Regions from separate parts of the Homo sapiens genome. Here region 2 is reported to be linked to region 1. Evidence: microRNA targets listed by miRTarBase, many of them from high-throughput screens and not tested one by one. Region 1 holds a microRNA gene; the other region holds the end of a gene's coding sequence.
Evidence for each region. Region 1 holds the annotated microRNA hsa-miR-5586-5p (UAUCCAGCUUGUUACUAUAUGC, at 3,933-3,954, shown strand). A microRNA usually pairs through its seed, bases 2 to 8, with sites in the 3' UTR of a target mRNA and lowers its output. Matches are read on the target gene's strand: a 7mer-m8 pairs with bases 2 to 8, a 7mer-A1 pairs with bases 2 to 7 and ends in A, and an 8mer does both.

Region 2: the mRNA of CATSPER4 is a reported target of hsa-miR-5586-5p. Seed matches in the 3' UTR shown: 7mer-m8 at 4,692-4,698.

Annotation. Positions count from the first base shown.
Region 1 is chr14:59,645,426-59,650,952 of GRCh38, reverse strand. MIR5586 (microRNA 5586) reads left to right here and starts at 3,933; the gene lies at 3,933-3,991. All of the region lies in intron 3 of RTN1 (reticulon 1), which reads left to right.
Region 2 is chr1:26,202,201-26,207,445 of GRCh38, reverse strand. CATSPER4 (cation channel sperm associated 4) reads right to left here. Exons shown (of 10, transcript NM_198137.2): 10 at 4,482-4,957. The coding sequence ends at 4,904. Among named protein-coding and RNA genes, the nearest start is that of CATSPER4, 14 kb to the right of the region's middle. RefSeq lists an enhancer at 5,019-5,245.

The sequences.
Region 1 (5,527 bases):
GTGATCCATCCAACTCAGTCCCAAAGTACTGGGATTACAGACCCCATGCCTATGTCTTGAGTGGTATTGCCTAGGTGAAAAATGTCATTGGTAGATAGGTTTGAACCTATAAATTTCTTTGGCCAGTATGGCCATTTTAATGATATTGAGTCTTCCTATTCATGAGCATGGAATGTTTTTCCATTTGTTTGTGTTATCTCTGACTTCTTTGAGCAGTGTTTTGTAATTTTCATTGTAGAGATCTTACAATCCCTGGTTAGCTGTATTCCTGGGTGTTTTATTCTTTTTGTGGCAACTGTGAATGGGATTGCTTTCCTGATTTGGCTCTCAGCTTGGCTGTTATTGGTGTACAGGAATTCTAGTGATTTTTATACATTGATTTTGTATCCTGAGATTTTGCTGAAGTTGTTTATCAGCTTAAAGAGCTTTTGGGCTGAGATGATGGGATTTTCTAGATAAAGAATCATGTCATTTGCAAACAAAAAATAGTTTGACTTCCTGTCTTCCTATTTCAATGCATTTTATTTTATTTTTTAGTTTTACTTTAAGTTCTGGGATACATGTGCTGAATGTGCAGGTTTGTTACATAGGTATACATGTGCCATGGTGGTTTGCTCCACCTATCAACCCATCATCTAGGTTTTAAGCCCTGCATGTATTAGATATTTGTCCTAATGCTCTTCCTCTTCTTTCCCTGCACATCTGACAGGCCCTGGTGTGTGATGTTCCCCTCCCTGTGTCCATGTGTTCTCATTGTTCAACTCCTACTTATGAGTGAGAACATGCAGTGTTTGGTTTTCTGTTTCTGTGTTAGTTTGCTGCAGATGATGGTTTCCAGCTTCATCCAAGTCCCTGCAAAGGGCATGACCTCATTCTTTTTTATGGCTGCATAGTATTCCATGGTGTATATGTGCCATATTTTCTTTATCCAGCCTATCATTGCCAGGCATTTGGGTTGGTTCCAAGTCTTTGCTATTATAAATAATGCTGCAATAAACATACATGTGCATATGTCTTTATGGTAGAATGATTTATAATCCTTTGGGTATATACCCAGTAATGGGATTGCTGGATCTAATGGTATTTCTGGTTCTAAATCCTTGAGGAATTGCCACACTGTGTTCCACAATGGTTGAACTAATTTACACTCCCACCAACAGTGTAAAAGCATTCCTATTTCTCCACATCCTCACCAGCATCTGTTGTTTCCAGACTTTTTAATACTCACCATTCTCACTGGCATGAGATGGTATCTCACTGTGGTTTTGATTTGCATTTCTATAATGACCAGTGATGATGAGCTTTTTTTCAAATGTTTGTTAGCCACATAAATGTCTTCTTTTGAGAAGTGTCTGTTCATATCCTTTGCCCACTTTTTGATGGTTTTTTTTTATAAATTTGTTTTAAGTTCCTTGTAGCTTCTGGATATTAGACCTTTGTTAGATGGATACATTGCAAAAATTTTCTCCCATTCTGTAGGTTGCCTGTTCATGCTGATGATAGTTTATTTTGCTGTGAAGAAGCCCTTCAGTTTAATTAGATCCCAATTGTCAATTTTGGCTTTTGTTGCCATTGCTTTTGGTGTTTCAGTCATGAAGTCTTTGCCCATGCCAGTGTCCAGAATGATATTGCCTAGGTTTTCTTCTAGGGTTTTTATGGTTTTAGGTCTTACTTTTAAGTCTTCAATCCATCTTGAGTTAACTTTTGTATAAGGTGTAAGGAAGGTGTCCAGTTTCAGTTTTCTGCATATGGCTAGCCAGTTTTCCCAACACCATTTATTAAATAGGGCATCCTTTCCCCATTGCTTGTTTTTGTCAGGTTTGTCAAAGATCAGATGGTTGTAAATGTGTGGCATTATTTCTGAGGCCTCTGTTCTGTTTCGTTGGTCTATATATCTGTTTTGGTACCAGTACCATACTGTTTTGGTTACTCTAGCCTTGTCATAAGTAAAAAGAACAAAGCTAGTGGCATCACACTACCTGAATGCCATTTATTTCTTTCTCTTGCCTGAGTGCTAAGGCCAGGACATCCAATACTATGTTGAATAGGGGTGGTGAGAGAGGGCATCCTCGTCTTATGCCAGTTTTCAGGGGGAATGCTTCCTGGTTTTGTCCATTCTGTATGATGTTGGCTGTGGTTTAGTCATAGATGGCTCTTATTATTTTGAGGTATGTTCCTTCAATACAAAGTTTATTGAGAGTTTTTAACATAAATGAATGTTGAATTTTATCAAAAGTTTTTCTGCATCTATTGAACTAATAATGTGATTTTTGTCTTTAGTTCTGTTTATGTGATGAATCACATTTGTTGATTTGCATATATTGAACCAACCTTGCATCCCAGGGATAAAGCCTTCTTGATCATGGTGGATTAACTTCTTGATGTGCTGCTGGATTCAGTTTCCAAGTATTTTGTTGAGGATTTTTGCCTCAGTGTTCATCAAGGATATGGGGCTGAAGTTTTCTTTGTTGTGTCTCTGCCAGGTTTTGGTTTCAGGATGATGCTGGCCTCACAGAATTAGTTGGGGAGGAGTCCCTTCTCATTTTGTTGGAATAGTTTCAGTAGGAATGGTACCAGCTCTTCTTTCTTTATTTTAATGGCAGAATGCAGCTGTGAATCCATCTGGTCCTGGACTTTTTGGTTGATAGACTATTTATTACTGATTCAATTTCAAAGCTCATTATTGGTCTGGTCAGGGAAGCAATTTCTTCCTGGTTCAGTCTTGAGAAGGTATATGTGTCCAGGAATTTATTTATCTCTTCTAGGTTTTCTAATTTGTGTGCATGTGTGCATAGAGGTGTTCATAATAGTCTGTAATAGTTATTTGTATTTCTGTGGGGTCAATGGTAACATCCCATTTGTCATTTCTGATTGTGTTTATTTGGATCTGTCTTTTCTTCTTTATTAGTCTAGGTAGTGGACTACCTTATTAATGTTTTTCAAAACACCAACTCTTGGATTTGCTTATTTTTTCATGGCTTTTAATGTCTTGATCTCCTTCAATTCAGCCCTGATTTTGGTTATTTCTTGTCTTCTGCTAGCTCTGGAGTTGGTTTGCTCTTGCTTCTCTAGTTCTTTTAGTTGCAGGGTTAGGTTATACATTTGAGATGATTCTAACTTTTGATATTAAGTTGGAATTTAGTGCTATAAATTTCCCTCTTAACACTGCCTTAGCTGTGTCCCAGAGATTCTGGTATGTTGTATCTTTGTTCTCATTAGTTTCAAAGAATTTCTTGATTTCTTCCTTAATTTCATTATTTACCCAAAAGCCATTCAGGAGCAGGTTGTTTAATTTCCATGTAACTGCATGTTTTGAGTTTTTTGTAGTCTTGATTTTCACTGCTATCCAAGAGTGAATTTGGTATGATTTCAGTTCTTTTACATTTGCTGAAAATTGTTATATAACCAACTGTGTGGTTGACTTTACAATATGTGCCATGTGGTGATGAGAAGAATGTATAGTCTGTTGTTTTGGGGTGGAGAGTTCTGTGGAGATCTATCAGATCCATTTGGTCCAGTGTTGAATTTGGGTCTGAAATATCCTTGTTAATTTTCTGCCTTGATCATCTGTCTAGTTCTGTCAGTAAGTGTTGAAGTCTCCCACTATTATTGTGTTGGAGTCTAAGTCTCTTTGCAGGTCTCTTGAGAACTTGCTTTGTGAATCTGGGTGTCCCTGTGTTGGGTGCATACGTATTAGGAGAGTTAGGTTTTCTTGTTGAATTGAACCCTTTACCATTATGTAACGCTCTTGTCTTTTTTGATTTTTGTTTGTTTAAAGTCTGTTTGTCTGAGATTGGGATTGCAACCCCTGCTTTTTTCTGTTTTCCATTTGCTTGGTAGATTTTCCTCCATCCCTTTATTTTGAGCATATGGATGTCACTGCATGTGAGATGGGTCTCTTGAAGACAGCATACCATTGGGCCTTGCTTCTTTATCCAGCTTGTTACTATATGCTTTTTAAATGGGGCACAGAGTGACAAGCTGGTTAAAGAAGCAAGACCCCTTCAAGATTATTATTGATATGTGTGGATTTGATTCTGTCATTGTATTGTTATCTGTTTTTTATGCCAGCTTGTTTGTGTGGTTGCTTTATAGTGTCACTGGCCTCTGTACTTGTGTTTTTTTTTAATTGGCTGGTAATGGTCTTTCCATATTTAGTGCTTCGTTCAAGATCTCTTGTAAAGCAGATCTGGTGGTAATGATCTCCCTCAGCATTTGCTTATCTGAAAAGGATCTTATTTCTTCTTCACTGAGGAAGGTTAGTTTGGCTGGATATGAAATTCTTGGTTGAAGATTTTCTTCATTGAGAATGTTGAATATAGGCCCCCAATCTCTTCAGGCTTGTAGGGTTTCTGCTGAGAGGTCTGCTGCTAGCCTGATGGGGTTCCCTTTCTCTCTAGCTGCTTTTAACATTCCTTCTTTCATTTTGACCCTGGAAAGTCTGATTGTGTATCTTGGTGATGATATTCTTATGGAGAATCTTGCAGAGGTTCTCTGTATTTCCTGAATTTGACTGTTGGCCTCTGTAGTGAGGTTGGGAAAGTTTTCACAGAAGATATCCTGAAATATGTTTTCCAAGTTGTTTGCTTTCCCCCAATCCCTTTCAGGGATGCCAGTGATTTATAGTTTGGGCCTCTTTATATAATCCCATATTTCTCAGAGGTTTTATTTGTTCCTTTTCATTATTTTTTCTTTATCTGTATATGACTGTCGTGTTTAAAAGAGCCAGTCTTCCAAGTTCTGAGATTTCTTCCTCAGTTTGGTCTATTTTGCTGTTAATTCTTGTGACTGCATTGTGAAAATCTTGCAGTTTGTTTTTCAGCTCTATCAGATGAGTTCTTTTATACTGGCTATTTTATCTGTCAGCTTCGGTATCATTTTATTTTGATTGTTAGTTTTCTCGGATTGGATTTTGCCATTCTCTGGAACCTCAATGATCTTTGTTCCTATCAGTATTCTGAATTTTCTTTCTGTTATTCCAGCCAACCCTGGTTAAGAATCCTTGTTGAAGAACTAGTGTAGTCATTTGGAGGATATAAGACACTCTGGTCATCTGACTTGTCAGAGTTCTTGTGTTGGTTCTTTCTCATCTCTGCATTTAGGTGTTCTCTTAACTGCTGGGCTGCCTCTGATTGAAGCGGTCAGGCAGGGGCAGAGTGGTTGCACTGGAGTCCTGGGCCTGGTAACTCTGCCCAGTGAAGAGAAGTGAGGACCAGGACCTGCGTGGAGAACAGTATGGACACTTTTCCATTAGGTGGATGCTCTGTGCTGGGGGTTCAGACCAGTGCCGGGTCCCCATGGACTCTCTAGAGCCTGGAGACAAGAAGGGTGAGGGCTGTGAGACAGCAAAGATGGCAACCCACCCCTCCCACTGGGAGCTCTGTCCCAGAGAGCTGAAGAACTGCTACTGGCTCAATAGCTCCAGTGGGGAAAGGCTGGAGACCCAGGCTGGGAGAACCTGCCCAGTGAGGAGATACGGGAACAGGGACTCATGTAACAAACATATAGAAAACATGTAACATGTAGA
Region 2 (5,245 bases), not on the chromosome of region 1:
TGGCCAGGCATGGTGGCTCACGCCTGTAATCCCAGGATTTTGGGAGGCTGAGATGGGAGGATCACCTGAGGTCAGGAGTTCGAGACCAGCCTGACCAACATGGTGAAACCTCGTCTTTACAAAACACACAAAATTAGCCAGGCGTGGTGGCACACACCTGTAATCCCAGCTACTTGGAAGGCTGAGATAGGAGAATCGCTTGAACCCGGGAGGCACAGGTTGCAATGAGCCAAGATCATGCCATTGCACTCCAGCCTGGGCAACAAGAGCAAAACTCAAAAAAAAAAAAAAAAAGGAAAAGAAAAGAAAAGAAAAAAAACTGGAAGTGACCCAGCCCAGGTGGCAGGCTCATTCTTTGTCCTTCCCATCGCCTAATTCTGAAGATGCACCAACCCTTCTTTTCTGGCACCATCCACACCCTCACTTTTTTTTTAGAGACAGAGTCTCAGTTGCCCAGGCTGTAGTGCCGTGGTGCAATCATGGCTCACTGCAGCCTCAAACTCCTGGGCTCAAGTGATCCTCTTGCCTCAGCCTCCTGAGTAGCTGGGACTACAAGTGCGCACCACCACACTCGACTAACATTTTTCTTTTTATTATTTATTTATTTATTTGAGATGGAGTCTCACTCTGTCACCAGGCTGGAGTGCAGTGGCGTGATCTCAGCTCACTGCAACCTCTGCCTTCTGGGTTCAAACAATTCTCCTGCCTCAGCCTCCCGAGTAGCTGGGACTACAGGCGCACCACATTGCACACACATTGCACCACACCCAGTTGATTTTTTTTTTCCTCACTCTGTCACCAGGCTGGAGTGCAGTGGCACAATCTCAGCTCACTGCAACCTCCACCTCCTGGGTTCAAGTGATTCTCCTGCCTTAGCCTCCCGAGTAGCTGGGACTATAGGCGCATGCCACCACGCCCAGCTGATTTTTTTCTTTTCTTTCTTTCTTTCTTTCTTTCTTTCTTTTTAAAGACAGATTCTCACTCTGTTGCCAGGCTGGAGTAAAGTGGCACAATCTCAGTTCACTAAAACCTCCACCTCCCGGGTTCAAGTGATTCTCTTGCCTCAGCCTCCTGAGTAGCTGGGACTACAGGCGCGTGCCACCACGCCCAGCTAATTTATTTTTTATTTTTTTAGTAGAGACAGGGTTTCTCCATGTTGGCCAGGATGGTCTTGATCTCTTGACCTCATGACCTGCCCCCCTCAGCCTCCCAAAGTGCTGGGATTACAGGCGTGAACCACTGCACCCAGCCTTCTTTTTATTTTTTGTAGAGATGAGGTCTCACTATATTACCCAGGATGGTCTCAAACTCTTGGCCTCAAGCAATCCTCCTGCCTTGGCCTCTAAAAGTGCTGGGATTGTAGGCATGAGCCACCTTGCCCAGTCCCACACCCACTTTCTTCTGGCCCTGTGCAGAGCTAAGGGATTGCAACAGGCCAGGGGAATTGGCAAGGATGCTTGGAAAGGGTAGGGGGACCTACGCTCTACACCTGGCTCTATTACTGGCTTGCTGGGTGACGCTGGGGAAGGTCTCACCTCTCTCTGGGCCTCCATGTTCCTCTTAGCCTAGTGAGGGACTTGGCTCAGTGTGGAGGAGCATTGTAAACTCTAGTCATCTGTGGGGTCCATTTGCAACAAAGATCTAGTTTGCACTGAACCTATATGTCTTGCTATAGGGGTCTCAAGTTTTTATTTGCAGGGAGGGATGTTTCCACTGAATCTGACTTTATGTTTTTTCCATATAGTTAATCAGTTATCCCTGCCCCCTTATGGAAAAGTCCATCTTTCCCCCAACCAACACCACATTATCTTACTGTTACTTTATAGTAAGCCTCAATATTTGGTCGGGTGAGTCACCCATCTTGTGCTTCAAAATTATCTTGACAGGCCGGGCGCAGTGGCTCTCACCTGTAATCCCAGCACTTTGGGAAGCCGAGGTGGGCAGATCACTTGAGGTCAGGAGTTCGAGACCAGCCTGACCAACATGGTGAAACCCCATCTCTACTAAATACAAAAAATTAGCTGGGCTTGGTGGCGCATGCCTGTACTCCCACCTACTCGGAAGGCTGAGGCAGAAGAATTGCTTGAATCTGGGAGGTGGAGGTTGCAGTGAGCCAAGATCGTGCCATTGCACTCCAGCCTGGGCAACAAGAGCAAAACTCCGTCTCAAAAAAAAAAAAAAATTATCTTGACTATTCTTGGCCTTTTGTTCTTCCTTACATATGTTAGGATCAGCTTAACAATTTCTACAAGCAACCTGTTGGAATTGTGATTGGAGGTGCCCTGCAATTATAGGTTCAGTGAGGATTGACATCTTTATGATATTGAGGTTTCCTGCCCACAGAAGCTCCCTTGAGAAGTGTGACCTGGGCTCTGAAGTCAGACCTGGGTTAGGATCTCAGTTCTGTGATGGAGGATAAGTCCCCCGTGGGGACATATCCTCTTCATACCCACTTCACTGATGGTCATGAGGATGAAATACTGCGTGTGAAGCACTCAGCACCATGCTTAGCACCTAGTAGGTACTCAATGAGTAGAACTGCTATTGGGAATGATTATCCCCTGCTGCTCCTGTCATCAGAATTGGTGTCTGCTTCCTGGACAGTTTGCCAAGGATGCTCCTGTCCCTGGTAAAAGTTATGGACTCATAGGGAGTCCCCAGAGGTCCACTGATTGTAGCTGATGGGAAACCCATCAGGTGAGACCATAGGGGTGATGAGACACACAATTTCCAGCCACCTCCCAATATCTTCCCCCGCACTGTCCTAGGAGCTCAGAATCCGGGGCCCCACTCCTAACTCAGGCTCAGTAAGGCATGGGGAGTGGTAGTTGCTCTTTGCTGGAGTAGGGAAGGGGAAGGGGAAGGGGAGAGTATGACTTCCTGGGCCCTCAGTTCCAGGCCAGTTTGGGAAGGAACTAGCCTGCTGAAACTCCAGGCTGTTAGGTTGGCCCGGATGGGAAAGACAAAGGCAGAGACAGATGAGATGACAAACAAGATGAAGGGAGTAGATAGACAAAATAGCATCCTGGAGGAGATAGATGGTCAAGGCCAGGAGCTCCATGGAGGTCACCCTGCTGTGCTCCTGACTGTAAGCTCACTGATGCTCCAAGCCTTTCAGACAGTTAGGGGTGAAGGATAGCCATACTCAAACTGTTAGCTCCTCCTGAAGACACCATCTGATCTGCCACCTTCTTCCCTCTCTGGCCAACAAGAAGAGGGGCTGAGAGGGCCCCCAGAGAAAGATGGGTGGAAAGAGTATGTAGATACTCACCAGGCAGGTTGAGGGCGCCATCTCCAGTAAGTAGCAACAGCAGCAGCAAAATCCGCTGGGTGCCCTTCTCTGTGCTGCTGATGGTCCTGGAGGGTGCTGGGAAGAAGTCCTGGCTCAAACAGGGGAATAGATTAACGGCTCCGAGACAGTAAGGCACTGCTGGCTCTGTTGCTGCCTCTCATCTGCCTACTGAGTGCACCATCCATCCCCAGGGGCCAGACTCCTTCCCAACAGACCCCAGGGGGCTTTTCAGAGTTGGAACCAATGCTGATGGGAGGACGATGGGGGGTGGGGTTTCCCATCAGCTGCAATCAGTGGACCTCTGGGGACTCCCATTCCAACTGGTGAATATCGCCACGGCCCCTAAGTGTCAGGCTTCGCTGAACAACAGGGCAGATGTCCAGGCCTTCCAGGCTATCCCCTGACACCTGCATCCCAGGGACATAGCTGATCCCATGGGTCTTCCACTTCCTGGGATAAGAGGGGATTATTTGATTTTAGAGATGGAGATCAATCTCACCCTCTCTCCATCGCACAGATGGGGAAAACAAGGCCAAGTGACTCACTGAAGGACCAGAACCGAGGTTTCCTGTCCTCCAAGGCAGCTCTTTCTATTGCCCATAACTGCCACAATTTTCTGACTCTCCCCAGATTGCATAGCTCAGGAACCTGCTGAGGCTCTCAGTGGCCTTGAGTATGAAGATCCCAAATAGGCTTCACAGGTCCTAAGTTCCCCACCAGACTTCATTCATCTGACCCGCAAAATCTTCCTCTCCTCTAGGAAGCTGCCAGGACCCACATTTTAAGTAGTCAGTCTCCATTGCCCTAGGATGGAGGTGCCTGTACTTGTGTGACTTGGTCATTGGTGATCCCATCAGACAAGGGCTCCCCAGAGTGAGGACCAGTCTCCATCTTCAGACAGGGAGAGAGCAGGTAGGGCCATCTCCTTCATCAGACAGGGGCTCCCTCCCATGAGGACCAGACTTTCCTCCACAAAGCTTAGGACCCTGAGGGCAAGGGTTATATCTCTACCATTAAGTCAGAAATTTTTAGGGGTGCAATTCTCCCTCCCATTAGACTGGATGCTCTTCAGGGCAGCCTGTGACTCTCCCACCAGACAAACGGGATTTTGAGGGGCAAGATCTGTCTTTCCTATTAGACCCAGGCAAGTGCCCCAAGGAGTTGGAGATCCACCAGTCAGAGACATTGATTCCAACACAAAACTTTATTGTCAACACACAGATGTCTGGCCCCACTGGCCTTGCCTTTCTCTTCTTGGTTCTGGGGCCCACTGAGGCCCCCCACCAGCTCTGGGCAAGAGCAGGGGGCCAGGGATCCCCATCCTTAGGTCAAATCCTGGCTGCGTTGGCCAGCACCCCCTTCTGTGCTCATCCTTGCTGCTAGGGTTCCCACTCTCATCATCCAGCATCCTCCTCTCTCCTTGCTCCACCGGACCTGGGGCTCACAGGCACCAGACCTGCAGGTGCTGCCACCTTCACAGCCCCTGGCCTCTGCCCAGGTATAAGGGAGAGGATGGGCTCTGGCCAGGCTCTGCCAAGCCACACTAAGGACACAGGAAGACGCAGCGGCTGGGTGTGTGTGTGCAGGCCCCTTGGCTCCCATCCTGGCCTCTCAGTGGCTGCTCTTGTGTTTTTTAAGGAGTATTTGTGAGCTAGAGTCATGAACCTGCAAACCAAGAGGTCTTCTTGTTAATCCCCCACTCCCCCCGATATGGCAGCCTCCGTTACTCACCTCCTCCAGTCTCACCAGCTTCCCCAGCCAGGCCTCCCAGAGAAGTGCTTCATAGGTCTAACTTGAGCCTACCTAGTACCCCCTCTGAGTTTGGGAGCCCAGGGTATATCCCAGGCTGATGGTGTGGAGGGGCAGAAAAAGAAACTAAGTAACGTGGGTGTGTGCCTTTTTCTCTCCAGGAGTTCAGGAGACAGCTGGTTTTGTGCACCTTAGATAGGATCC